4 linked regions of the Homo sapiens genome follow. The protein of the gene in region 4 interacts with the protein of the main gene of each other region in a biochemical or structural test. Each region holds a gene or a part of one and is shown on either strand. Other genes may lie near its edges.

What was found.
Region 1: the proteins of ERBIN (region 4) and SMAD2 form a complex in vitro, tested with the Homo sapiens proteins (2 studies listed by BioGRID).
Region 2: the proteins of ERBIN (region 4) and SMAD3 form a complex in vitro, tested with the Homo sapiens proteins (2 studies listed by BioGRID).
Region 3: the proteins of ERBIN (region 4) and ATP2B4 interact in a test that uses a peptide from one of them, tested with the Homo sapiens proteins (2 studies listed by BioGRID and IntAct).

What each region holds. Positions count from the first base shown.
Region 1 is NC_000018.10:47,843,653-47,850,679, forward strand, and holds part of SMAD2 (mothers against decapentaplegic homolog 2), read right to left. Parts: intron 5,036-7,027; coding exon 4,823-5,035; intron 2,149-4,822; coding exon 2,011-2,148; intron 1,833-2,010; coding exon 1,688-1,832; intron 1-1,687. UniProt on the Homo sapiens protein: Receptor-regulated SMAD (R-SMAD) that is an intracellular signal transducer and transcriptional modulator activated by TGF-beta (transforming growth factor) and activin type 1 receptor kinases.
Region 2 is NC_000015.10:67,159,602-67,166,628, reverse strand, and holds part of SMAD3 (mothers against decapentaplegic homolog 3), read right to left. Parts: intron 1,735-7,027; coding exon 1,541-1,734; intron 1,377-1,540; coding exon 1,245-1,376; intron 469-1,244; exon of another isoform or gene 436-468; intron 99-435; exon of another isoform or gene 1-98. UniProt on the Homo sapiens protein: Receptor-regulated SMAD (R-SMAD) that is an intracellular signal transducer and transcriptional modulator activated by TGF-beta (transforming growth factor) and activin type 1 receptor kinases.
Region 3 is NC_000001.11:203,720,816-203,727,842, reverse strand, and holds part of ATP2B4 (plasma membrane calcium-transporting ATPase 4), read right to left. Parts: intron 6,647-7,027; coding exon 6,433-6,646; intron 5,366-6,432; coding exon 5,154-5,365; intron 3,963-5,153; coding exon 3,855-3,962; intron 449-3,854; coding exon 272-448; intron 1-271. UniProt on the Homo sapiens protein: Calcium/calmodulin-regulated and magnesium-dependent enzyme that catalyzes the hydrolysis of ATP coupled with the transport of calcium out of the cell. By regulating sperm cell calcium homeostasis, may play a role in sperm motility.
Region 4 is NC_000005.10:66,020,552-66,027,578, reverse strand, and holds part of ERBIN (erbin), read right to left. Parts: intron 6,258-7,027; coding exon 6,194-6,257; intron 4,290-6,193; coding exon 4,215-4,289; intron 3,274-4,214; coding exon 3,129-3,273; intron 2,100-3,128; coding exon 2,027-2,099; intron 1,732-2,026; coding exon 1,602-1,731; intron 1,278-1,601; coding exon 1,162-1,277; intron 1-1,161. UniProt on the Homo sapiens protein: Acts as an adapter for the receptor ERBB2, in epithelia. By binding the unphosphorylated 'Tyr-1248' of receptor ERBB2, it may contribute to stabilize this unphosphorylated state.

The sequences.
Region 1 (7,027 bases), on a different chromosome or scaffold from region 4:
CAGATAGATGGATATTTGCCATTTTGATTTGTAAATGTTACAGGAAACTACTTGATTTTCCAAAGTCAGATGTACCTGACTCCCAATACTCATAAAAACATACTGCATATTACTGCTTCTGTAATTACAGATTTTACTTTATCTGTGAGTTAAAGAACAGCAGAGTCCACAGTGAATGAAGAAGGGCAGTATCTTTACCAAGTAAAACTGTTCTTAGCAGATCTATAGATACACATGGAATTCTCTCTGTAATTCACTCTTACTTCCACTAAATTCCTACCATATTTTGCATTATTCTAACCTTCTGAAGAACAAAAAAAAGTCTGACCTGAAATCTTATTAGACAATATAATTTAAATCTAATTTTGCTATCAACTCAGGTCAAGTCTAATTTTAAAAAACGGCATTCAGCATTCTTAACAGGTAACAACATCTCAAAAGGGTAATAATCAAAACAGAACTACAGCAAAATCACAAAATGAATTATTCTACCAATATAACTCAGAAAAAAATAGTGACAAGTCTTCATTCTCTGATACAAATATATACCATATATTTTTAAATGTATTCAACAAGTAGACCTCACATTGCACAATCTCAAATCAGATTTCTGACAAAACTTAAGATAGACAAGCAAGTCCAAAACAAATAAATTTGGAAGGGACTAAATTGCTGGAAGAAGCAGGAATACAATCACTATATTACATGAATATTTCTTAAGCAGGCATATGGAGTAAGCAATACGAATTGAAGAAAGACTAAGTATTTTACTTAATTCCTACTCTTAAATATGGTCAAGAAGTCTTCTCTCTCTTTGATGTGAAATCCAATCTATTGTTTAATTCATCAATAATCTAGACTATCTTATCCACTGATGACAAATTAGTTTTTGTAAAACTTAAACATAATTGTTACTACTATCCTTATAAAAGAGGTAAAGAGTCCAGGAGAACTATCTTCCAGTCCCATCTCAACCACTTATAATGTAACCTTGGGCAAATTATCAGCTTTCTATGTCTATTTCCAAATATGTATTAGTTTGAACCATGTGTTACCTGCAACGATGGCAATTTCATATATTTCAACCTTACAAAGAATGAATTGACAACAGAAATAATAATTTTTAGATACTACACTTAAAACAGCACAGTGCCTGGCACATTAGCAAGTATTCCTTCTACTTCTGAATGAAGTTCCTCCTCTTAACCTACATCTAGTTTGTCTCAATTTAATTGTCCAGCCTTATTTTTCTATTCTCCAAACTGAATTGCTATGCTATTGTCAAGATTATCACTTCCCAACTCTGCCCACCCCATTTATGACTATTGAAATCCAATGCACCTTTTACAACTAGATCATGTGCCATCAAGTTTTCCTTGAGCACCGTGTGCAAACATCTCTCCTTCCATAAACTGACATAACCCTTCATATACACCCCTTTTATGATATTTAACACTCTGAATTACGTTAAAATGCACGCCTGTGCATGTTTTAATATCTTCCATAATGGCAGCTCAGTAATTTGCAACAGTTTTGAATTTGGAGGCCTCCAACTTTATTTTACATAAAGATCAGCTGACTCTATAACCTCATTGAAAATAGATACAAATGAACTCCAGAATATGCAAGAATGCAATGAAACATAATTACACTGTGGAAATTTAAGAACCAAATATGTATTTCATACCGGTATTCTGCTCCCCACCCTTTCACAAAACTCATTCTTATGGTGCACATTCTAGTTAGCTGATAGACGGCTTCAAAACCCTGATTAACAGACTGAGCCAGAAGAGCAGCAAATTCCTGGTTGTTGAAGATCTTCAGATTACAGCCTATGATTAAAAAAGGTAAAAGAAATTGTCAAAAGAGTATCATTATTAAAAAGTAATTTTAAAAGGGTTACAAGTTTTAGAATATGAGCATGCAATCATCTACTGATTCCTAAAATTAGCAACAAGAAAAACTAAGCAAGTTGACATGATAGGTTTATGTACATTATTGAATCCATACCTGGTGGAATTTTACACACTGTTGCAGGGTGCCAGCCATATCTCTGATTACAATTGGGGCTCTGCACAAAGATTGCACTATCACTTAGGCACTCAGCAAAAACTTCCCCACCTATGTAGTATAAGCGCACTCCTCTTCCTGAAACAAAATACAAATGAGATTAGTTTTGTAACATTTACTATTTCAGTGTGACTTTGGAAGCATTTTCTTGGAAAAATTCTAAAATGATATAAGGTATTTCCAGGATCTTTTTCACAGATAATGTCTTTCTGAAGTCTAACTTTAAATATACTACTGTATATTTCTCCCAAGTATTTTCTAACAATAATTTTATTGATTTTAAAATACATGTGTACTGACTGAAAGTATTTAAACAATGTAGAAAAAGTACACATAGTAAAATAGTTTCATACAAATGATATATATTAAGATAAGTAAAAGATTGAGTTAATTTTGAAGGAATTCACTAATGTTTGGAGAAATATATCTTCATTACAACTGTAGTTTCTTAGAGATCCCACTTAATGTTAAGAAAAAAGATGTAAAAACATCAAAAAGTCATTTGCCATTTTAAAAACTATATATTATGGTGGAAACCCAACCTCTAGATGTATAAGCATGATTAGGTGAGAAAAAATTCTACTGGGAGATTTTTAATATACTTCTTTCAGAATCTGAGAGATCACAGATGCAAAATAATATGAGATATAAGAATTAAAAAAAAAATTGTGAGAAGCAGAGTTCTAACATGACACCTAAGAGTCTCAGCCCTGAGGTGCACATACATTCTCTGTTAATCAAACACTAGGTGCTGCTGTTAAGGATTTTTTCAGATGTAATTAAGGCAGCAAATCAGTTAACCTTAATCAGGCAATCCTTTAAAAGGGACTAGACTGTCATAGGCTAAGTGATTCAAAGCATGAAAGGTATTCAACACAAGAGACATTCTCCATTGCTGACTTTGAAGATGGATGGCACCATGTGACAAGGAATTCAGGAGGCATCTAGGAGCTGAATTCTGCCACAACCATGTGGGTTTAGAAGAGGACCTCAAGCTCCAGATAAGAACACAAGCCAGCTGATACCTCAATTTTGGCCTTGTTAAACCCTGAAAAGACCGCCTAACCCATGTCTGGACTCCTGACCCACAGAAACCGTGAGGTAAAAAACTGATGTTTTAGGCCACTGAGTTTGTGGTAATTTGTTACACAGCAAAAGAAAACTAATCAAACAACTAACACTCCAGATTTAATACAGAACCTGGTACGGTGGTTCTGTTAAGACTATGGAATATCTGTAAAACAGTCATGCACGTGGTCATTGGGAAAACACTAAGTCCAAAAAGTAGAGATTTTTCAGGCTATATTCCCTGATCAATATCACCTATAAAACTAGAAATAAAAAATTTAAAAAAATCCAATAACGACAGCAATCTAAAACTTTGGAGGGAGAAGAGAATAAGGCAGAGAAAACCCATTAAATTTTTTTGCAGAACCCCAATTAAGTCACAAAAACAAAAAACTATTTTAGTTAAAGCACCTACAGCGACACTGGGTATCTTAATAAGATTATCCAAATTTATACATCAAGCAAGATTTGAGAACTTCCACTTGGAACCAAGTAATAGATCTTCTAGTCACTATCATTTTGCAGTATCAAAATCACACTTTGATAACCAGCATTACTTCTCACAGGAGGTAATGGTTAATTAGAAAAAAAACAGAAGCAAACTACTGTTAAAAGAAGTTACTTTAAGGTGATGAGAATGATGTTCAATTATGAATGGTTCTCACACTTTTTCACTTCATCGTTAAGGAAATACTGAGGACCCCAAAGAGCTTTTGTTTATGTGAATATTATGGAAAATGACCATATTAGATATAAAAACTGAGATTTAAAAAATTCATTTAAAAATCAAATCCATTACATATTAACAATGTTTATAAAAAACAACTGTATTTCCAAAGCAAAAAAAAAAAAAATAGAGTGGCAACATTTCACCATTTTTGTCTATGAAAAACAACTATATTTCCAAAGCAAAAAAAAAAAAAAAAAAAAATAGAGTGGCAACATTTCAACATTCATGTCTAGTGTAACAGAATTGGAGTCTCATTATCAAATCTACATTTCATCTCTTGCAAAATCATATGCATGTAGGCTCTGGAATACTCCACTGTACAGTCATGAGAGTATGAGAGTAGAAATGGCAAACAGCATCTCAGTACTACTATGAAAATAGCTTTGACCTCACAAACTAGCTGAAAGGGTTTCTGGGACTACCAGAAGTCCCCAGACCACATTTTGAGATGTCCCTGAATTATATTTTGAACTATATTAAATGCAGTTCTTGTTTTAGATATCTCATTTCAGATGAACAGCAAGCAGATTTCATTTAATATATAAACTCACCAAAGGGGGAAAAAACCTGGGAGCTATATAAAGAAACTGAAAAAAAACAAAAACAAAACAAAACAAAAAAACATGATTTATAAAAAAGTATTAACCCCCAAATCTGAACATGGCAATTTTATGACTGGTAGAGACTCAGCAAATTAAACTTATCTTAACACATATTTATTGAAGAACTTTCCAGTACCAAGGGTGCCAAATAAAAGTTGAAGAGTTTGCAGCTGAAGCATCACCAGGATCTATTAGAAGCAGTGAAGCCTGTGCACTTAAATGTGTCGGCACTTAAACCACCAGAGAGAAAGCTGGTTTTACTGCACACAAGCTCTTGATGTGGCACACCATGCAATGCCTACATTATGAGTATACAGCATTTATTTTTCACAACAAGGAAAATAAAACATACCTATATGCCTTCTTGTCATTTCTACCGTGGCATTTCGGTTAACATTGGAGAGTAAACCTAAGCAGAACCTCTCTGAATTTGATGGGTCTGTAAAGCCATCTACAGTGAGTGAGGGCTGTGATGCATGGAAGGTTTCTCCAACCCTCTGATTTAATTCATAATATGCTATCGAACACCAAAATGCAGGTTCTGAGTAAGTAACTGGCTGTAAATCTGAAAAAGAAAAAAATAAAAAAATAATAAAAGGAAGAAATGCGTGAACAATTCAAGCCAAAAATAGATTTAATATAATCATCTTTACATGCTCTATGCCAGCCTGCACTGGCAAAAGCTCAGGAAGTAGACATAGTATCTGTATCGGTTTCCACAGATGATACCAGATTTTCAGTATTTTTCACACAAAACTCCAGTTTCATAGATCATACCAGATTTTTTCAAATTTCTCCCATGTCATTAAATCACTTTATGTTGGATTCTTTGTTTTACCAGTAGTTTTAGTCTAGCTCCTGTTCAAATACAAAACAATCATAGGCAAAGTCAGTCAACTTGCCATACTTGGTGCATTTCTAAAGCACATAAAAAAGCTAAAGTGGGGTAAGATAAAGCCAGAGCAAAGATTAATGAGTCAAAAGCCACACAAAGAAAAACAGTAATAATAAAAGGATACAAAATATGACATATTTTTGACATTTGTCTATTTTAACATCAAACTCTTGGTGAGATACCCTAGCTACAAAAAGAGAAAACCCACTCATACATAAGAACCAGAAAGCAGTAACACACAAAGATCATGCAAGTAGAAACAGACCATAGAGTCAAAAGACTACTTATTTCACTGGAAAACTATATATTTAGCTTCTGCAGTTTGACTAAAACATATCATAAGGAATACTGCAAAAGAAAAAAACCTCACAATTTTGTAGAATAAATTCCAAACATGTAACAACCGAAGAGAAATTGTGAAATAGGGTAAAATGAGGGCAAAAATAATAATAGTAATACAGAAATGTATGTATATATATATATATATATATAGTCATCCCTTGGCATTTACAGGGGATTGGTTCTAGGACCGGCTCCCCCTAACTAAAAACCCTTAGATGTTCAAGTCCCTGACATAAAAGGGTGTAGTATTTCCATGTAACTTAAATTCACGTCATCCTGTATACTTTAAATAATCTCTAGATTACTTATAATACCTAATAATATAAATGCTATACAAATATTTGTTATACTGTATTTTAAAATTTGGGCCCAGCACGATGGCTCACGCCTGTAATCCCAGCACTTTAGGAGGTCAAGGTGGGTGATTCGTTTGAGGCCAGGAGTTTGAGACCAGCCTGGGCAACATAGTGAAACCCCATCTCTACTAAAAATACAAAAATTAGCTGGGTGTGGTGGCATGCACCTGTAGTCCCAGCTACTCAGGAGGCTGAGGCAGAGAATTGCTTGAACCCAGGAGGCAGAGGTTGCAGTGAGCCGAGATTGCGCCACTGCACTCTAGCCTGGGCGACAGAGCAAGACTCTGTCTCAAAAAATAAATAAAAATAAATACAATTTGTATTAGTTTTTACTGTCGTATTGTTATTTTCATTTTTTCCCGATTATTTTCAATCTGCAGTTGGTTGAATCTGCAGATGCTGAACTCATGGTTATGAAGGGACCATACACATACACATTTGTACATATATGTGCACACTCTCATATATATATTATATATAGTATATATATATTATTATATATATGTATAATATATATTATATATTATATATTATATATATTATGTATAATATATATTATATATTATATATATTATGTATAATATATATTATGTATGTTATATACATATTATGTATAATATATGTTATATATATTATACATAATATGTATAATATATATTATATATATTATATAATATATATTATATATTATGTATAATATATATAATATATTATATATATTATGTATAATATATATTATATATTATACATAATATATATTATATATTATATATTATGTATAATATATGTTATATATATAATATATATTATGTATAATATATGTTATATATATAATATATATTATGTATAATATATATTATATATTATATATATATTATATATATTATGTATAATATATATTATATATTATATATATATTATATATATTATGTATAATATATATTATATACTATATATATATTAT
Region 2 (7,027 bases), on a different chromosome or scaffold from region 4:
TTCTGTTGTCCTCGCCCCTGTCCACCTCTGACTCCCGCTTGGATCATAACTGCCTTTGCTCACGCAGGACCGGATCAACTCCCAAGTCTGAAATGTGTACTCCTAGAGCCTCTGCCAGGCTAACTTATCCTGGTCCTTCAAGGTGAGGGTTAAGCCCCACCCCCTCCAGGGAGGCGTCCAGACTTGCCTCCGCCTCACCCCTTTCTGTCCTCTGAAGATCTGCAGGCTCAGACCCACCCTTTGGTCCCTACTATCTTCTTCTGTGCAGACCAGGTGTTATTATTTGTTGTCTCTAAGGGACGTGTCCTCACTCAGCAGTTAGGTTGCAAGTTCAATGACGGCAAAGACAGTGTGATCTATTTCTCTGAAACCTCCCCCAGACCCTGACTGAAGCCCTCCAAGATTTGCTCTTTGAACAGGGAGTAGTTGACTTACCCGCGGGACGCCAGGGCTACCCGCAAAGGATCTGAGAAGGTTGGACAGTGGGTCTCCTCCTTAACACTCTGACCCAAGCACACAGGCCTGTAGCCAATCTCAGCCCAGTAAACTAACCCAGGATGAACGTCACGTCCAAATTAGAATGCTCTAAGAGGAACGCAGCAGGATTACTGCCCCAGCAAGCAAAAGTGACTAGCCCAAGTGCTGCCAAGCACAGCTTTCCTGGAGTCTGAAAGTGCTGGTGATTCACACGTTATTTGCATGTAAATGAGGGGCTTCTAAAAACATTTGCAGTCTTTGACGGCAAAGCCCATTTCTCCCTGCAGAGTGAAAACTCAAAGTCACTTCAATTCCCACCCAGGTTGGAGCCCCTCACCGAGGCCTGATGCCCAGGCGAATTTACAGAGCCAGCTCTCCGCACTTGCTGCCTGGCCCTCAGCTCACTCCCCGCCTCTGCAGACCCCCAGTCTATTGGGACTGAACACCAGTCCGGGCCTCAAGGGCGGTGAGAGAAACAGTGTTGCTATTTCCGCTTCCAAAATAAATGACTGCACCAAGGCCGGGCGGAAGGGTCACGCTGCTCCTCTATGCCAAGAAAAGCATCACTAGTGAGGGGGGAGCTGAGGTCATGGGTCCTCTCCCAACAGGGATGCGGTTCTGAGTCAGGGGCCCTCAGGCCAGAGCTGTGCGCAAAGAGGGGGTGAGCGGGGGACGGCCAGGGGGCAGAGATTGGGGCCACAGGACTGATGTCGGGGCTGACCGCTGCCCCTGCCTCCCAGGCCAGCCTGTGCCGCCCACGTGCCTACCTGGAATATTGCTCTGGGGCTCGATGCCTGCGGGGAAGTTAGTGTTTTCGGGGATGGAATGGCTGTAGTCGTCCAGTGGGGGGAACTCGGCCGGGATCTCTGTGTGGCGTGGCACCAACACAGGAGGTAGAACTGTCCGGGGGAGACAGAGCAGAGGTGGCTCAGTGTCGATGCCAGACCAGCACCAAAGTCCCCGCACCCCCAAGTGCACCGCAGACCCTCGGGGGGATGGGGAGCCGGGGAGAGGTGATGACCCCTGGCACCTGCTGTCCCCACAGGCAGGCCAGGCAGCATACCTGGTGTCTCTACTCTCTGGTAGTGGTAGGGATTCACGCAGACCTCGTCCTTCTTCATATTGAAGGCGAACTCACACAGCTCCATGGCCCGTAGCTCGTGGTGGCTGTGCAGGTCTGGCCATCGCCACAGGCGGCAGTAGATGACATGAGGGAGCCCCTTCCGATGGGACACCTGCAACCGGCCATCCAGGGACCTGCCAGGACGGGGAGGGGCAGAAAGAGAGGGAAATGTGGATTGTGCTTGCTTTCTGCAGAGTCCGGCCTCCTACTTTCAGACACTTGGAAAGCTCTCTCTCCCCTCATTTCTCCCAGATCCAGAGGTCCAGGAGATCAGAGCACTGCTAGCTGAGAGTGCTGGGAGGGATCTCAGGAGAAGACAACAAAGGCCCCGTGAGGACTCCCAGCTGGCAGAGCGGGCCTCACCCACCAGTCCCCGGTGGGTTCCCCAACTTTGTACTGCTCTTCAGGGAGTGGCATTCCATGGGAAGGGCCCGCACTTCAGTCACTTCAGTTGTGCTTGGAAAAGGTCCAGGAGCCACTCATCGGCTTCCTACTCAGCCCAGAGGTGTGGAGAGGGGACAGGGCTGGGGAAGACAATGAGAGTTCTTTAGGCACAGATATGAGGACTACAGTGATCCAAAGAAGAGTGACAAAGTACAAAGGCTGTCTCCCCTCATTCACTCAGGTCTTCCCTTGCACATTAGAAAGTCAGGGGAAAAAAAGAAAACTTGCCTTTCCTCCTCTTTTTTTTTTTTTTTTTTTTTTTTTTTTTCTGAGACGGAGTCTCGCTCTGTTGCCCAGGCTGGAGTGTAGTGGCGCCATCTCGGCTCACTGCAAGCTCTGCCTCCCGGGTTCATGCCATTCTCCCGCCTCAGCCTCCTGAGTAGCTGGGACCACAGGCACCCGCCACTACGCCCAGCTAATTTTGTTTTTGTATTTTTAGTAGAGACGTGGTTTCACTGTGTGAGCCAGGATGGTCTCGATCTCCTAACCTCGTGATCTGCCCGCCTCAGCCTCCCAAAGTGCTGGGATTTCAGGCGTGAACCACCGTGCCTGGCCCCTCCTTTCTTTTTTAGTTATTTGTGGTGAGCAGGGAGTGAAAGACGGAAATTAAAGGGATTTTTTTTTTTTTTTTTTTTTTTTTACTTTTGATACAGGGTGTTGCTCTGTCACTCAGGCTGGAGTGCAGTGGCATGATCTCGGCTCACTGCAACCTCCGCCTCCCAGGCTCAAGTGATCCTCCCAGCTCAGCTTCCCAAGTAGCTGGGACTGCAGGGGCACACTACTGTGCCTACTTACAATTGGCCAGTGCCATGACCCTGTGTGAACCATGTCTTCTATGGTGATTTGGCCAAGCAGCTATGACCCGGTGCCCTTACCTCTCAAGCCAGGCCAAAGTGTGGTCCCTGACCAGCAGCAGAGGTTCAGGGAAGTTTGTTAAAAATGTACATTCTCAGCGCCTACCCCAACCTACTAAATCAGAATCTTTCCCTTTGTGAAATCCCCAGGTGATCTGGATGATGAGAGTCTGGGTGGCTTACAGGAAAGGACTGGGGAGCTTGGGGCGGCAAAAGCATTGTCAGCTACAGGCAAGGCTGGGAGGCAGAAGGCTTCTGGAGGGACGTAAAACTTCAGATAGTGTCTGGTATTAGACAGGTGAGGAGGTGCCACTAAAATGGAGTCCCTTATTTAACACATATTTAATGAGCACCTATTATGTGTGACACTAAGGATACAGTGGTAAGGAAAGAGACTTCACTATGAGAAAAGGCCAGCAAAGTGGTCCCTGTCTGCAGGGACCCTCCATTCCACTGGGCAAGACCGGCATTAATCAAATAATCACCAAAACCACTTTGGGAGGCCGAGGCGGGTGGATCGCTTGAGGCCAGGAGTTCAAAACCAGCCTGGCCAACATGGTGAAACCCTGTCTCTACTAAAAGTACAAAAATCAGCCAGGCATGGTGGCGGGCGCCTGTAATCCCAGCTACTCAGGAGGCTGAGGCAGGAGAATCACTTGAACCTGGGAGGGGGAGGTTGCAGTGAGCCAAGATTGTGCCACTGCACTCCAGCCTGGGCGACAGAGCAAGACTCCGTTTCAAATCATCATCATCATCATCATCATCATCATCATCATCATCATCACAGAAACCTACAATTACACACAATGAAAGTGTCCTGAACGAAAATAACAAGGAACCCCAAGAGTGTATGACCATGGCACCCCACTTTGCTGAAGGACTGGACAGGGCATCTCAGAGGAGGTGATGGTTGACCTGAAGGCCTAAAGGGTAAGTAAGAACTAACCAGGCAAAGGGGTGCGGGAGAAGGGCAGTACAAGCAGAGGGAAAGGCACACACAAAGGCCCTGTGGAAAGTGGAAAACATGGTGAGGTCGGAAGAACAGAATGAAGGCCAGAAGGACTGGAGAGGGGATCATGAGAGAGAGCTGGCTTGAGACGAGGCCGGGGAGGCAGGCAGGGGTACTCTGCAGGGCCCCAAAGGCCATGATAAAGGCTTCTCCTGTTTTCTAAAAGCAGTATGTAGCCTCTGAGATGTGTAAGTGGGCTGTGCATACGTGTGAAAGAGACAGGCCCTGTGGAACTCTGGCTACGTGTGACCAACAGATTGCGGGTAGCAGGGATAGAAGTGGGGAGCAGATGAGATGGATGCTCATGAGTCACAGGTACCCTATTAAGAGGCAGGACTGCTTTTTCTTCAAGGAGGCCCATCCTAGGACCCTGCCAGTCAGTGCCATAATTTTTCTAATAGCTGGCAGGGCTGGCAGTGAGACATTTGCAAGCTTTCCCTCTGTGCCTTCTTATGACCGAGGGCACCCATTTGCCTGAATACAGAGAATTCATGGGCACTCTGTGAAGGAAGGGCTGGCCAGATGCCACCAACAGCACCAACCAAAGAGAGAAACAGAGGGATCCAATCACACTCTCCAAGCCACTGGCCTGGGAAGGGGAAAGGACAGACAAAGGTCATAGCTGGGCTTGGTCACAGGAACTGACCTGGAGCTGCTGACTAAGGGCATCTTGAAGGATGTAATTACCTTCCTCCCTTGGGGCCCCAGAACAAGGAAGCCCTACAGCTGAAAAACAGTAATTACCAGGCAGATCGAGAAGACAGCCTGGGACTCGTCCCTGAGGTATAAAAGGAGGACTGGCGGATGTGGAGCCATAAGACCTGGGGTAAAGGAGGGTTCTACTCTCCTAGCTGGGAGACACTGGGCAGCTCATGAGCTTCCTAGGACACTCAGTTTTCTCATCTATAAAATGGGGTATTCTGCCCCCCGACCTCCTGAAGCTTGGTTTCCATTTGAAAGTGCTTCATAAACACCCACAAATTAGCGTTATTATTCTCTATCACAGCAGATACTCCCCAAACCCAGCCCTGGATAAGTAGGGTGAGCTGGAGGTTGAACAGGAGTAAAAGGGAGAGTGGGAAGTGGTGAGTGGGAATAGAGAATTATTCAGCTGTTCTCCTTCTCCTGCAAAGCCACTGGGTGCCCACAGATTAGGGAAGTGGCCGTATTTGCTCTTCGGTGTTTGACAAAACTCCCAAAAAAGGGCCAGCTGGACATCATAGCCTCCTCTGCAAGAGAAGGCCTTGGAGAAAAGCTCATGCCAGCAGCGGGGGAGAATGGGGCTGTGGAGGTAAGCTCCATCTAGGTGATAGAAGTGGGTGGCCCTCTTGCCTTAGTAGTAATATTAATCATACATGAATCACTTGGATATTAATTAAACTTTTAAAAACAAGGGAGCTACAATAATCAAGGCAGTATGGTAATGGCACAAGGACTGACAAACGGATCAATGGAACCTAACAGAGTCCAGAAATAGTTACATATATATGGACGACTGGCTTCAACAAAGGTCCAAAGACAATTTAGTGGAGCAAGGACAGTCTTCAACAAATGGTGATGTAACAACTGGATATGTAAAAAAGATAATCTTCAAACTACACATTGTAACCCTATACAAAAACAAACTGAAGTGAAACTTAAACTCTAAAATGTCTAGAAGAAAACAGGAGAAAATCTTTGTGACTTTTTGGGATAGACAATGATTTCTCAGATACCACACCAAAAAGCACTTAATAATAATAAAAAAAAAATCAGACCGCATCAAGATTTAAGCCTCTGGTCTTTGAAAGACACTGTTAAAGGAATAAAAAGGCAAGCACTAACTAAGAGAAAATATTTGCAAAGCGTATATTTGATAATAGACCTGTTTCTAGAACTCTGAAAACTCAATATTAACAATTCAATCTTCTTTTTTTTTTTTTTTTTTTTTTTTTTTTTTTTTTTTTTTTTTGAGATGGAGTCTCGCTCTGTCGCCCAGGCTGGAGTGCAGTGGCACAACCTTGGCTTACTGCAAGCTCCACCTCCTGGGGTCACGCCATTCTCCTGCCTCAGCCTCCCGAGCAACTGGGACTACAGGCGCCTGGCACCGCGCCCGGCTAATTTTTCGTATTTTTAGTAGAGACGGGGTTTCATGTGTTAACCAGGATGGTCTCGAACTCCTGACCTCGTGATCCGCCTGCCTCGGCCTCCCAAAGTACTGGGATTACAGGCGTGAGCCACTGCGCCCAGCCAACAATTCAATCTTTTAAAAAAGAGATACATGATTTGAACAGACACTACCCAGAAAGATATGAAGACAACAAGCATATGAAAAGATGCTTGACAATGTTGATCATTAGAGAAGCACAAATTAAAACTACAATGAGATAGGACTACATACTTATTAGAATGGCTACAATTAAAAAGCCTGATCATGCCATGTATTGGCAAGGATGTGGAACAACTGGAACTCCCTTCCACTGCTGGTGCAAATGTAAAATGGTACAACTATTTTGGAAAACAGCTTGGAAGTTCCTTTCTAAAATATTTTATTTTGGGGGATACACAGTAGCTATACATATTTATAGGGTACTTGCGATATTTTGATACAAGCATACAATGTGTAATGATCAAATCTGGGTAATTGGGATATTCATCCCTCAAACATTTGGAAGTTTCTTAAAAAGCTAAAAAACCATAAGCCTACCATATGATCCACCATTCCACTTCAAAGTATTTACCCAAGAGAAATAAAAGCCTATGTCCAAAGACTTGTGCATGAATGTAATAGCCCCAAATTGAAAACTACTCCACATGTATTAACAGATGAATGAGCCATAACATATCCATACAAAGAAATACAACTCAGTAACAAAAAAGGATCAACTACTGATACATGCAACGCTATGAATGAATCTAAATTAATGATGCTGCGTGAAAGAAGCCAGGCATGATTCTGTTCGTGTAAAATTATAAGGTAATTTAAACTAAAGTAAAAGGCACACTAATCTTAATCTAGTGACAGAAAGCAGGGATCAGTCATTGCCTGGGGACAGAGGGAGTTACAGGGAGGGAGTAGGGATTGGAGGGAGCAATTACCAAGGTGCACTTGGAAACTTTTTTGGGGGTAAAGGTTATGTA
Region 3 (7,027 bases), on a different chromosome or scaffold from region 4:
GGTGGCAGGCTGGGCTTTAGGGTCAACCCAGAGCTAAAGGACTATGCTAATAGTGTCCCATGGTCTAGGTCATTTGACTCCTCTCCTCTCAGAGGACCCCACACAGATCCTTTTGCGTGTCTGTCCTGAAGCTGAGGATCTAGGGCTGCCCATCAGTAGTGAGCCTTTGGAAGGGAAGAGATGCTGGCCGACAAGAACTGCTACCCTCCCAACACCTTCCAAGATGGGAAGCTGCTTCTCCCAAGGGAAGGACAGACCACTATCAGAGTACCTGAGTCTGGATACGGTTCAGGCCCCGGAACCAGAGGATCTGGCCTCGGCGCAGCTCCATCTCAGCATGGTCAATCTCATCCAGTCCCTCGGCATCCTTGGTGATCTCCTCTTTGGTGGTGCCATGCCCAGCCTCCTTCAGGAACTTCAGGGATCGGGTAGGTATTGCGGAGATGAACTGAAAACAAGCGCAGCGAAGAGGAAGACGTCAGAATCAGCGTGAGAAGAGCTGTCAGTCAACTTACATGAGCCAGGCCCTTGGGCAGGTTACTCTTTGCCCTACCACCCTTCCCACTGGAAGAGCAGTGGGCAGAAGCACCAATCCATCCAGGCAAGCATTCTCCAAGTGCCCACCAGCGGTCAGGCTTTTAGGAAGGTTTTCTGTATTTATGGACACACACAAAAGAGAGCTTCTATTCTAGTAATTGACCAGCCATCTGCCTGGTCATATACTTCATTTTCCTCTTTCTGTCTCATTTCTTCTGTTCCATTTTGCAATCTGTCTTTTAAGGTTAACAGAACTATACAGCATGGTACGCAGTAGGAAGAAACAGAGACCAGGACCTGGGGGAAAAGAGTTTGGGGAGAAGATGGTGATATTGCCTATGTATAGGCAAGGGGTTGAGAAGGGTATTGGAAATGAATGACCCCTTTCTTAGTTGCCACATGCAAAGTAGTTTCTGTGTTACAAACTCTTGTGAAAGGATACCAAAAGTTTTCTTGGGCTTGAGGTGAGGAAGTGGATGGGACAGTCCATAGAAGAGGGGTCACATGAGTATTATCAGAAGACAAGGAGCAGTACATAGGGTTTGAAATTTGAAATAAATTTCCCGGTGAGCTCAGCACCTGTCAGTCAGTTCTTTCCGGACAAGATAAGGAGTAGCCAGGGCTCATGTGGGGAAGAGGGACTGTATGGGCAATCTGATATGGAGTCAAGGGTTTTGAAATGGGAAGAATGCCAGAGCTCTGCCTCTGAATGTGGAAAAAGCTGTTGTGATACAGAAGGAAGGCTGCTGTCTGGCAGCAAGGCCACATGGCCACATGTGAGGCAAGAGCCAGAACAGAGTTTCAAACAACAGGTTTAACAACCAAGCTTTACCAAAGCATAAAACTGCTTTAGGAACCCATTGGTAAAAAAAAAAAAAAAGAAATCTTCACCAAACAGAACAGGGTGGAGGGAATTGGGTCAGACATTAATTAGGGAGGGCTGGGTGCAGCGGTTCATGCCTGTAATCCCAGCACTTCGGGAGGCCGAGGCAGGAGGATTGCTTGAGCCCAGGACTTTGAGATCAGCCTGGCAACATAGTGAGACCCCAATCTCTTTATTTTTTGTTTTTCGACATAGAGTCTCACTCTTGTCATCCAGGCTGGAGTGCAGTGCCGTGATCTCAGCTCATTGCACTCCGCCTCCCGGGTTCAAGCAATTCTGCTTCAGCCTCCCAAGTAGCTGGGATTACAGGCATGTGTCACCATGCCCGGCCAATTTTTTTTTTTTTTTTTTGTATTTTTAGTAGAGACAGGGTTTCACCATGTTGGCCAGGCTGGTCTCGAACTCCTGACCTCAGGTGATCTGCTCGACTCAGCCTCCCAAAGTGTTGGGATTATAGGTGTGAGCCACTGCGCCTGGCCTGAGACCCCCATCTCTTAAAAAAAAAAAAAAAAAAAAAAGAAAAGAAAAGAAAAGAAAAAGAAATTATTCAGGGAGGCATCTAGGTATGAAATAAATAACTAGCAGGTTTAGGGGAGAAGGCCTGCAGCTCCAGAAATGGCTCTTTGAGGCCAGTTAGGGCAAAGTGTCCATTACCTGGGTGGCTGGACACTAAGGGATTATCTGCAGAGACCTGGGGTCTGTAAAGAGAGGTATAGCCCAGGCCAGAGCTGAGGATGAGGGAGGTTTGTAAAGTGGTATTAAGGAAGAAGTGAAACTATTAGACTTAATGATACTATTATAATCGTAATAGTTTAAAATTTGATTATTTATAAGGAATAAGACATTATTCATTACTGTATAGTAACTGATTCACTAATTAACAATGACCTTGTTTTCCTAAGCTGAAGACACTGAGACACAGATTGGTTATGTAACTTGCCCAAGATGATTCAGCTTATAAAAAGGAGAGCTGAGGCTGGGCACGGTGGCTCAGGCCTGTAATCCTAGCACTTTCGGAGGCCATGGCGGGTGGATCACCTGAGATCAGGAGTTTGAGACCAGCCTAGCCAACATGGTGAAACCCTGTCTCTACTAAAAATACAAAAAATTAGCTGGGCGCGGTGGTGGGTGCCTGTAATCCCAGCTACTTGGGAGGCTGAGGCAGGAGAATTGCTTGAACCTGGAGGGTGGAGGTTGCAGTGAGCCAAGATTGCACCATTGCACTCCAGCCTGGGCAACAAGAGCTGGGCCAGGTGCGGTGGCTCACACCTGTAATCCCAGCACTTTGGGAGGCCAAGGCAGGCAGATCACGAGGTCAGGAGTTCCAGACCAGCCTAGCCAACAAGGTGAAACTCCGTCTCTAGTAAAAATACAAAAATTAGCCAGGTGCGGTGGTGGTTGCCTGTAATCCCAGCTACTTGGGAGGCTGAGGCAGGAGAAATTGCTTGAACCCAGGAGGCAGAGTTTGCAGTGAGCCGAGATCACACAACTGCACTCCAGCCTGGGTGACAGAGCAAGACTCTGTCTCAGAAAAAAAAAAAAAAAAAAAAAAAAACAGAGAGCTGGATTCAAACCCAGGCAGTCATTCCCAGAGTCCATGCTCTGAACCACAGGCCATACTGCTACTCTAGAGATCTTGTAAATCTGAATTTATCTCAGGTAAGAGTTAAGAATTCCACCCAGATAAAGCCATGGCAAGAAAGAGAAGAGGCTGGAAACCCTGAATTATGTCAGCTCGACAGCCCATAGCCAGGTTGCTGCCTCATGAGAATAAAGACATGTGTCTTGTAAACTCTTCTACTTCTAAGACCCTTATTATATATTTTTTTTTTGTAGCAAAATTCCATTGAAAAGTTTGGTTTCTGTCTCAGAGAAGCTAAGGGATTTTTCTTTTTTTTTTCTTTTTGACACTGAGTCTTGCTCTGTCGCCCAGGCTGGAGTGCAGTGGCGCAATCTCGGCTCACTGCAAGCTCCACCTCCCAGGTTCACGCCATTCTCCTGCCTCAGCCTCCCGAGTAGCTGGGACTACAGGCACCTGCCACCATGCCCAGCTAATTTTTTGTATTTTTAGTAGAGACGGGGTTTCACCATGTTAGCCAGGACGGTCTTGATTTCCTGACCTCGTGATCTGCCTGCCTCGGCCTCCCAAAGTGCTGGGATTACAGGTGTGAGCCACTGCGCCCAGCCAAGCTAAGGGATTTTTCTACCTCCAGGCTTAGTTAGAGAAGAATTCTGAAACCTCTGAAGTGATCATTCCACCTTGAGATCCTATGAGATGGCAAGAACTTGAAAACTTGAGTGGGGGTGGGGAGGGAAGAGGAGAAGATGAAGATGAGGAGCTGGGGGGTCTCCACCGTTGCTTGTTCCATCTCATGTAGAGGAGGGGAGTTCTGCAGGCTGTGAGAATGCACCAGGAGGGTGTGCCGGTACTCACCTGGCCCCACAGAAGTTCTCCAATCCCAATGAAGAGACACCACAGCCACTGAGACAGGCTGAGGCTTGTACAACTGAAGGGTTTACCCCCAAATTCCACGATGAAAATCTAGAACAGAGAAAGGGGCAGCCCACCATCAAGGAAATGACTAACAGGCAGCTGGCCCTCCAGCCAAGGCCCCCAAAGCCACATCATCCCACTCCTCAGGATCCTTGGGTACAAGTCCCGATTTGCTTGCAGGGGAAGGGAAAAGAAGAAATCTCAAAGGGGAGACAGACAAAAACAGCCTTTAAGAGCACTCTGATGGGGAGACAGACATAGTTACTGTGACTATGATTAACAGACAATCTGGAGGAGTTAGGGGAGCTGGTGGCTTCTTGTGACTAAAGCCAGTTAGTGACAAGGAGAAGGTACAGTGATGGAGTTAGGAACTGAGGATGAGGTGGGAGGATTGCCTGAACCTGGGAGACTGAGGCTGCACTCCCCCTGGGGGAGGGGGGAAAAGAGAGAGAGAGAGAGAGGCAGAGGGAGAGAGAGAGAGAGAGAGAGAGAGAGAGAGAGAGAGAGATATCTGTCTCAAACGAAAAAAAAAAAAACAAAAAGAAAAAATGGCAGGCGTAATAACACTTTGGGAGGCGGGAGGATTGCTTGAGGCCAGGAGTTTGAGACCAGCCTGAGCAACAGAGTGAGACCCCATCTGTATTTTTAAAATTAAAAAAAAAAAAAAAAAGGAATTGAGGATGGGGACAAATAAAGGGAGGTGCCCTGCTGAGGGATGGGACATGATCAGCTCATAGTCTCATATTGGAGGAGTCCAAGCTGGGCTGACTATGTAATATACATGTACAAATCCCATTACTTCTCTTTCTTTGAGTTGCACAACACTTTTTATCATAAGCCCTTCAGAACAAAGGGCAGGGACAGGGAGAGTCTATACTAGATGTGCATGCACATTTCATATAGGCTGACAGGAGCCATAGAAAGGGACTAGAAGAGAATACTTCTTTTGGTCATTCTGTGAAATTTCTGTGTATTTAGAAAGATCATGAAAGGATTTTAGAAGTATTATTTTATTTCCAGTCAACATGCTGCCCTGCACTGGAGCTCTTGACACAATGGGCTCCAATTCTAGAGCAATATGCAAAAGAAAGCAGATTGGGAATCCCAAAGTGTTCAACTTACAGCTCCAGTCCCCGTAATTCCTTCATTCCTTTTCCTAGGTATGTAGGGAACCCTGGCTCCCAGCTTCTGCCCTTTATCATTCCAGATCTCCTGCCCCAACTGCAGATAGAATCTCACCTGGCAGATGAATGTGCCCAAGACTACAGAGCAGAAGATAATGTTGCGGTAGATGCCTGAAAAGACGTTCTTCTCTCCATGGATCTTTCGGGAGTTGATTTCATTGAAGAGCTGCATCAGCACGAAGGTGTTAAAAACAATGGTATAGTGCTGGCTGGGTGGTGAATGTAGAGGTGCCTTCCTCCCACTATCAATATCAAAGAATTTCTCACCTAGTGGGGAGAGGAGAAGCACTGGAGGTTAAGTGTGGTCTGAACTAAGAGTAAGAATGTGTTGGTACAGATATACTGCTTGCTTATGGCTGGTGTCCATTCTAATTAATCAATATCTGAGCTGCACTAGTTATTTATTTTTTTGACACAGGGTCTCACTCTGTCACCCAGGCTGGAGCGCAGTGGCATGATCATGGCTCACTGCAGCCTGGACCTTCCTGCTCAAGTGATCCTTCCATCTCAGCCTCCCAAATAGCTGGGACTACAGGCGTGCACCACCATGCCTGGCTAATTTTTTGTTGTACTAGTTATTAAACATTTTAAATGTTAGTTCTGGTCTTGACTTATTTTACCTTCTCTCTCAGTTTGCTGCATTGATACTTGCTCTCATGTAGTGCAGCATGGTAGTAAGACTATGTGCGCTGGAGTCAGGCAATCATAGGTTTGAATTTTACTGCAACTATGTACTCATTATGGGACCTGAGGTTAATTTTTTGAATCTGTAAAAAAAGAAATAAGCCAGGCGTGGTGGCTCATGCCTGTAATCCCAGCACTCTGGGGGGCTGAGGTGGGCAGATCACAAGGTCAGGAGATCGAGCCCAGCCTGGCCAACATGATGAAACCCCATCTCTACTAAAAATACAAAAAGTAGCCGGGTGTGGTGGCGCATGCCTGTAATCCCAGCTATTTGGGAGGCTGACGCAGGAAAATCACTTGAACCTGGGAGGCAGACGTTGCAGTGACCCGAGTTAGCGCCACTGCACTCCAGCCTGGGTGACAGAGCGAGACTCTGTCTCCAAAAAGAAAAAAAAAAAAAAAAAAAGAAAGAAAGAAATAATAAAGCCTCCCTTGTGAAATTCTTGAGTACACACAGTACACACTGTACTCAAGAGTACTGTATGAGTACATATAGTAGCATAATGCACCGTGTAGCGGGAGCACAGCAAGCACTGGGAGGTGAAGCTGCGCTTATTCCTGACCTGTGCACTTGCTCTCACGCTACCTTCTTTCTCTGCCCCCACCTCCAACCAGGACCCCAGCTGCTACCCACCCCCAAAGTGGCTCACCCGCAAAGACAAGGATAAAGATGACAATGAGCTGATAGAATGCATGGCCCAAGATGTTCTTCATCATAGTGCGTGAGATCAGAGGCTTATTTCGGCCATAGGGGCGCCGCTTCAACAGAGATTCCGTAGGGGGCTCTGTGGCCAGGGCCAATGAAGCAAAAGTGTCCATGATCAGATTAACCCACAACATCTGCACAGCTTTCAATGGGGAATCCTGGCGGGGAGAAGAACCAGTCCTTTTAGCTTTTCTCTGAAACCAGCCCACCTTTGCCCTGTCGATGGCCCAGCTCCCACGACCCACCTAGACTTGGAATCTGGCCACTTCCTAGCTGAGTGACTGTGAGAAAGCTACTTAACTTCCTTGAGCCTCAAGTTCCTCACCCATAAAATGGGGATAATAATACCTACTTCACAAGGTCATTTTTGAAGAATACAGATAGTGCATATAAATGCTTATTACAGTGGCTGACACATAAGTGCTAAGCTAAGGCCTGTAAGTTACCATCTACATAAGCAGATGAAGACAGCAGACTTAGAAGAGCTAACTCCTGTCCCAATGTCATGGGGAAACGCTGTCTTTACTCTTCAGTAAACA
Region 4 (7,027 bases):
TTAGGGAATAACAATGGGAAAGTTGGTACACGTTCAGTACTGACACAATTTTTTTCCAAATATTTCTGATCTGAAGTTGTTTGAATCCACACTTGCAGAACCCACAAATACAAGGGTCAACTATAAATACTCATTAGAATACTAAATGAAAATATCTTATTTAAGAGAGAATTATCTACTTCAGCCTTGCTATCTTATACCTAACTAGTCTTCCGTGCCTTTCTTTCAGCAACCCACTGTGGGCCGTAGGAATTAAAGGCTGAAACGTGACTTAAGAAAGCAGTGGTTCTTTTAAATAAAACAGAAGTTAGAATATCATAATTAGTCAGAAAATTGAGTTTAAATTAAAGCTCTACCTTACAAGCTACGTGAGTCACCTTAAATCTGAGTCTTAAAACCCTCCTACATAAAATGGGAATACTATTATACTATTTCATAGAGCTGTTTTGAAGACTTCACAAGACACTATGAAAGCAAAAAGTGAAAACACTCTACAAATGCTGTTTAATCATCATTAGTATGTTTACCTCACGAAAAAGTATGGACATTCTGTTTTTAACTTAAACATTGTTCCAATTTACAACCCTAGTGATCAATTTACTCTGCACCTTGGCTTTGTTGAAACCAGATCTCTGCCTAGGAAAATATTAGCAACAGACTAGATACATTCCAAAATTGTTTTGTTAAATAGCAATATTCAGGTGAAGATGTGACTTCAGAAATAAAAGGTAACTGTAAGAAGAGAATAAAGACTATATAGCTAAGTCAACCCAAAATGAACAGTAACAACCACCGTATGATAAATTAACATCAGATAAAATAAGACCACTCTTTGTATTTAAAGAAAAAAATATATACAGTTAAGTCCTCATTTAAGTTATTGATAGGTTCTTGGAAACCAAAACTTTTAGCAAAACTGTGTATGGCAGGTTCTCAAATAATGTCATTTTCTTATAACACTGATGAACGAAAGAAGTGATTTCATTGTATGTTGTTTCACTGAAAGTCACACTTTCCAAGAGCCTATCAATAACACTGAGAACTTACTATGTATATTTAAAGAGCAACAAGCACTAGCTATTCTATTATATATCATATGAAACTTAATTTCATCTAACCAATGTCTCCTATAAACCAACTGATGAATATAGTATTACGAACCTATTATCACTTAAATTAATGACTTTTAATTTTTGCATATCACCCATTTCCTCTGGAAGTGTCTCAAGTTTATTGGAATGGAGAAACAGCACAGTTATATTTTTCCAGCTTCCAATCTGAAAGAGAAATATAAACTGAGTATCAAAAAATTTGGCCTACAGGTTGATCAACATATAAAAAACATCATTTTTGAAAGTTATGAAAAATACTTCACATTTATAGAAGAAATAATGACTAGACTTTCTTTTTAATTAATTTTTATGTACATAAGAAAGCATTTAAGAACCTCTTCTAAATTAACATAGCTAATTATTCAGAAAATAAATAACTTGAAAACTATTTTAGAAAGAAAATAAATGAAGCCACACTAAATAGCTATAATGAAGATAATCAGAAAAAAATGAAAAGACAAAAATCTAAACAAATCTAAAATACATTACCTCTGGGGGCAACTGCTGTAAGTAATTATGATCAGCAGCAAAAGTTCTTAAGTTAGTAAGCTGCCCAATAGATGAAGGCAAAGCTTCAACTTCATTGAAACTACAATCCAGTTCTTCTACTGATATTAACCTTTAATTTAAAAAAAGAAATATATATTATTTGTTAAAGATTTCCTATATATAATCCAAAATTTCAGAACATATAAACATTTGAACTTGACTTTGAAAACCTAGTGAAACCATTTCACAAAGCTAAACTTCACCAATAAGTAGGTTTGTCTATCATAAACACACTCAACCTGTATACTAATTACTTAAATGTTTACAAAATCTTTAGGTCATTTATGCAAATACCTGAAAATATGTATGGCATGCTGAACTGAAAGTAAAATCTTCGAGGGTGTATACATTCACAAAAAACTTACCCTCCTATAGAGTCTGGCAGATACATTAACTGGTTTTCATCTATTTTAAGCGTTGTTATATTCTTCAACGAACCTAATGAGGGAAGAAACAACATACAATTTTTCAGCTTAAAATAGAAGCAAGTCCACCAACAGTCAGTGTGAGACATACTACATCTGACAAGAATTAGAAACAACTTTCCTAACAAACGTATCTAAAAGAGATACCACTCCCAATCCCAATGTTCTATTCCCTCATCCTGTCCTTTCAATCTTCATCCACATCACTATTTAACATAGTGTACATTTGTTTATTAACTCCCACTAAAATATACTGATAGTAGGAACTTTTTTGTCTTCGTTGTTCACTGTTGTAGCTCTGCTTCTAAAAACAATGTCATGGCACAGAAAAGACAGACAATACAAACTTGTTAAATTAATAGACTAAAGAAATGGTAGTATGAAGGTAGTTCATAACAGGTATATAAAAAACTATTCCATATATACTAAATACTAAAACAGTAAAATATTTTTTAAGTTTAAAAAGTGTTGACTAAGAGTAGAATCGTAACAAACTTACAAAAATGTAGTTTTAGCTAAAACCACTACGTGATTTAACTGAGAAATATTTTTGGTTTTTAAATTAAAACATCAAAAAGATGTCAAGATTGAAGTTTTGGGTCCTTTCATCAAAATAATTCAATTCCATTGACATATCATTGAACAAGCAACTACACAGACTCAATCATAGATCTCTCATGATCTGTTCAACTGATCTGTTTTCTTGTCTGAGTGTCTGTAATGAAACAGGACTGAAAAAAGTTACCAAAATAAAAGCTATGACAATAAAAGCTAACAGTTAAGCCAAATTTGCATAAGTTAACTTATTTTAAAGAATTTAAATATATTAGAAATAAAAATGAGATTACCTTAGAGTAAATAAAAAACAGTAATGTCAACAAAGGAGCAAACTGTACAACTGATCACACCAGGAAAAATTCAAATAAAATCCGTTCCTGTGGTAACGAAGTATAACTACCTCATAACAAGTGAAATTTGAGATTATGTGGAAGTCTCGAATTTATTTTAATAAAAATTACATGAATTTGAAAGCAATACAAACCAATAGTCTCAGGAAGCTGCTGAAGTGAATTGCTTGATAATAGGAGGTCTTGAAGGTTTTCACATGTTGAAATTCCTTCTTCAACCATTTCAATATTATTTTTAGAAACATCCAAATATGTGAGCTGTTTCAAACTACCAATAAACTATAAGTAAAAAAAGAAAATCTAATGACTCTATTAACATTAGTAATTTGTAAAAAGTTTAGGGAATAAACTTGATACCAAGTTTTAATTCAAAATTAAATGCTAATACAAGAAAGAAGACTCCCAGGTAGTTTTTTAAATGCCATTAGAAATGTATTCAGTAATATAGCTAAGATGTTCTACTAATTGTAGCATAGCAGAAGTGACAAAGGACATATTCTTTGGGAATTCAGGTATCCATTACCTCCTAAGGAAATAGCATATATGGGGATTCTTGTGGTTTTTTTTATGGGAGTAAACAATTTGTCAGTTGTTAAAACAGAAAGTTCGGCTGGGCGCGGTGGCTCACGCCTGTAATCCCAGCACTTTGGTAGGCCGAGGCAGGCGGATAATGAGGTCAGGAGATCGAGACCATCCTGGCTAACACGGTGAAATCCCGTCTCCACTAAAAAATAAAAAAAAATTAGCTGGGCATGGTGGTGGTCACCTGTAGTCCCAGCTACTCAGGAGGCTGAGGCAGGAGAATGGTGTGAACCCAGGAGGCGGAGCTCGCAGTGAGCCGAGATCGCACCACTGCACTCCAGCCTGGGCAACAGAGCGAGACTCTGTCTCAAAAAAAAAAAAAAAAAAAATTCAGAAAGTTCATGAAAAATATCCTAGTTTACCAATTCCTTGGGCAAAGCAAATTGGGACGTAAGTTCAAGTGATACCATTGGAAAGGACACACTCAACAGTATTAAAAGGAGACATACAAATGTTTATTATGAGAATTCTTAGATTATAATCAAGAATGTGCTCATGAAAAAAAGTAATTTGCTTCTGTTTAATAAAGAATAATTCAATTTTTTTATTAATTAAAAGTAATTATAAAAGGTACAATTCACAAAACTGCAAAGGAGAGCCAGAAATAAGTGATGCCATTTAAAATCTCATATACATACCCCTGGAATAAAAGTCAGTCTATTAGCATCCATCCAAAACTCTTTCAATCCACTTAGTTGCTCAAGTACTTCAGGCTGTTGGGATTAGGGTAGGGGATAGCAGTAATTCAATTAATTTTTATGAATGTCTTTATCTGGCAAAAGAAGCCCTGGGAATTTCTAATAACCTTTAGTTTCAAATCATTAAATAAAAGGAGCAGGGAGAAGGAAAAATAAAAAAGAAGAGCCAGGATGTAAGCCTTTCTACTGCATTATAGTTACTACAGTAAAATTATTATAGAAAATTATTAATGGAGAAATCAAAGAGACATGCCATAGCAGTAGATTACAAAAAACACATTTAAGCTTTGGATTACACAACAGGGGCAAGTTTTTATATAATTTGTAAAGAAATAAAAAATAGGACTCACTGCTTAGAAGTATACAATAAAAATATGCACTCATGCATTATCAGTAAGAAGATACAGCTTTTAGAAAACAGAAAAATTACAAATGTTCCCTGGTGACATTCATTAAGAAGGAGATAAAAGACAACGTGCATCCTAAATGTCCATAATCAGGGAAAGGTAAATAGACAAAGTCATAACTACATGATACAAATATACTGTAATTTAAACCTCTAGTAAAAACTTCTAATTACATGGTAGAAAATTCTTTATAATATGGTGTTGAGGACATCAAAATTAATCCAAGTGTTGTGGCAGACCTTCATATCCAGGCAAAATTTGCTCCTGGGCATTGTCCCTTCAAGTCTGCCCTCTTCAAAGTTATTTCTATCACCTCACAAAGCCATCTGCAATCAATGATCATGTGATGGCACAGAGTACTATCACATCTAATGACCATAGTTAACAGTCATATATAAAAGGCATGCCAATCAGATTTACTGTTAACATATAAATATAGATAAGAATCCCAGATGTAACTTGGATTAAAAGAAATTTCCTTTTGTGCATTACTGTTAAATTCTACTGTAAGTTTTAAAAAGTGTATAATGTTGGAAGACCAAAATGGTACAAAAACTAATGACGATTTTGAAAGCTTGTTGGATTCTTAAAATGAACGAGATTTTTGAAATAGTTAATACGGAAACGGATTCATACAGAACAAATATTGAGAAAGGACGTAACAGATAAATAATTTGGGAAGCACAGCATGTATTTTAGAGAATGAGGTACTCCAAAGTACCATGTTCCTCCTCAAACCTCAGCTGAAATTTATAATATTAATATAATACCCACAGGGCAATACTATAGCAAGCAGTTTTGAGAAATTCCTAGGCTTAAAACCATCATTTGAGAGCTACCACACTTTTAAACAACAAACTTGTAAACTAATTTAAAAGTTTAATAATGATACTCAGCTGGATGAGTTCCTCTTCAAAAAAAAAAAAATCTAGCTTATTTTCTGAGTTCTTTTGGAAAACTCACTAAAGACAAAAGCTACTTAAACACTACTCCTTTCCTTTTAGAGTCAGCTTCATAGCGCACTTGGCATACAAAGCACAAACAAAAAGGTTCTCATTACCACTTCAAAAATAACAGTTGTTTCACTCAATGATTTTCCCCTTAGCTATTAAGTAACATTATAGAGAAGTATCTTATTACTGAATAAGTTAACAAGCAATACCCCATGGAGCTCTCTCTGATTCAGAACTACTTTTACCTGCTGCATTCCAGACTGATGTTTCCCACTTATAATCACTCAAATTTTCTGCTTCCTATGCTAAAAATTGTTTAGTATCTCTTCCATGGACCTCTCATTGATTTTACATTTTATGCTCACTTGTGGTCAGAAGTTCATCTGTCTGGTTAATTTTTCTATCTGTCTGGAAAGTTCTGGCTAAGAAATTTCATATCTTGTAACTAAGAAAAAAAAGTAAACCTTTATCCAATTTGTAAGAGAAATACATTAATTTTCATATTTTGTTCTTCATTAAATATAAGAACTTAGGGAAAGTGAGACTGATGAGAACTTACCACTTCCGTGAATTCGTTACTTCCCAAATCCAGTCTTTCCAGCTGGGTCAGTCTATTCATAGTTCTGTTCATAATGGAGTAATGAAAAATTAACTAGAAAAATATCAATTACATGGAAGCTTTCAAAACAGTCTAAAACATTCTTATGGAATAGGTAATTATTTATGGGCTTTCACATGTTGACAAAATAAAAATATTAATTTTCTAAAAAATTTTAAAAGTCAGATTTCTAGATAAAATAATTATCAGTTATTATCTTATTTTGCCTTCTCATTGGTCTTTTCATTTCTATTTTTAAGAAGCAATTGCAATAAATTTAAACCCACAAGCCAGAATACAAATAATGAGTTTCTATTTTTTCACATAATGAATTTTCATATAGTACAAGTCAGCTAATAAATGTTGGCAGATGTATAATAATTACTACCATAATTACAAAAATTCTTTTTCAAAACTGCTCATATATTTGTAAGACTTTAAGATAACTGTAACTCCGAAAATTAATATTCAAAATGCTAACAGTACGTTGTATTACTCCCCACATGTTCAAATTAAATACAATACAATTCAAAATAAAGTTTTATATGAATCACAAATTAGTAGTTGACATTTATTTTAAATAAAAGCAATAATATACTATTCTTAACTTCCAACTTAACATCAACACTTCTCTGAAATTACAGGAACTTGAAAGATGTACAAACCAGTTTGTAATGAAATAAACTATGTTGCACTTCTATCTTTTCTCTCTCCTTTTACAAAGGTACCCTTTGAAACTAATTCAAACAAATATTTACACTCTTAAGTGGCTATTTTTGTACAACACCTATTATT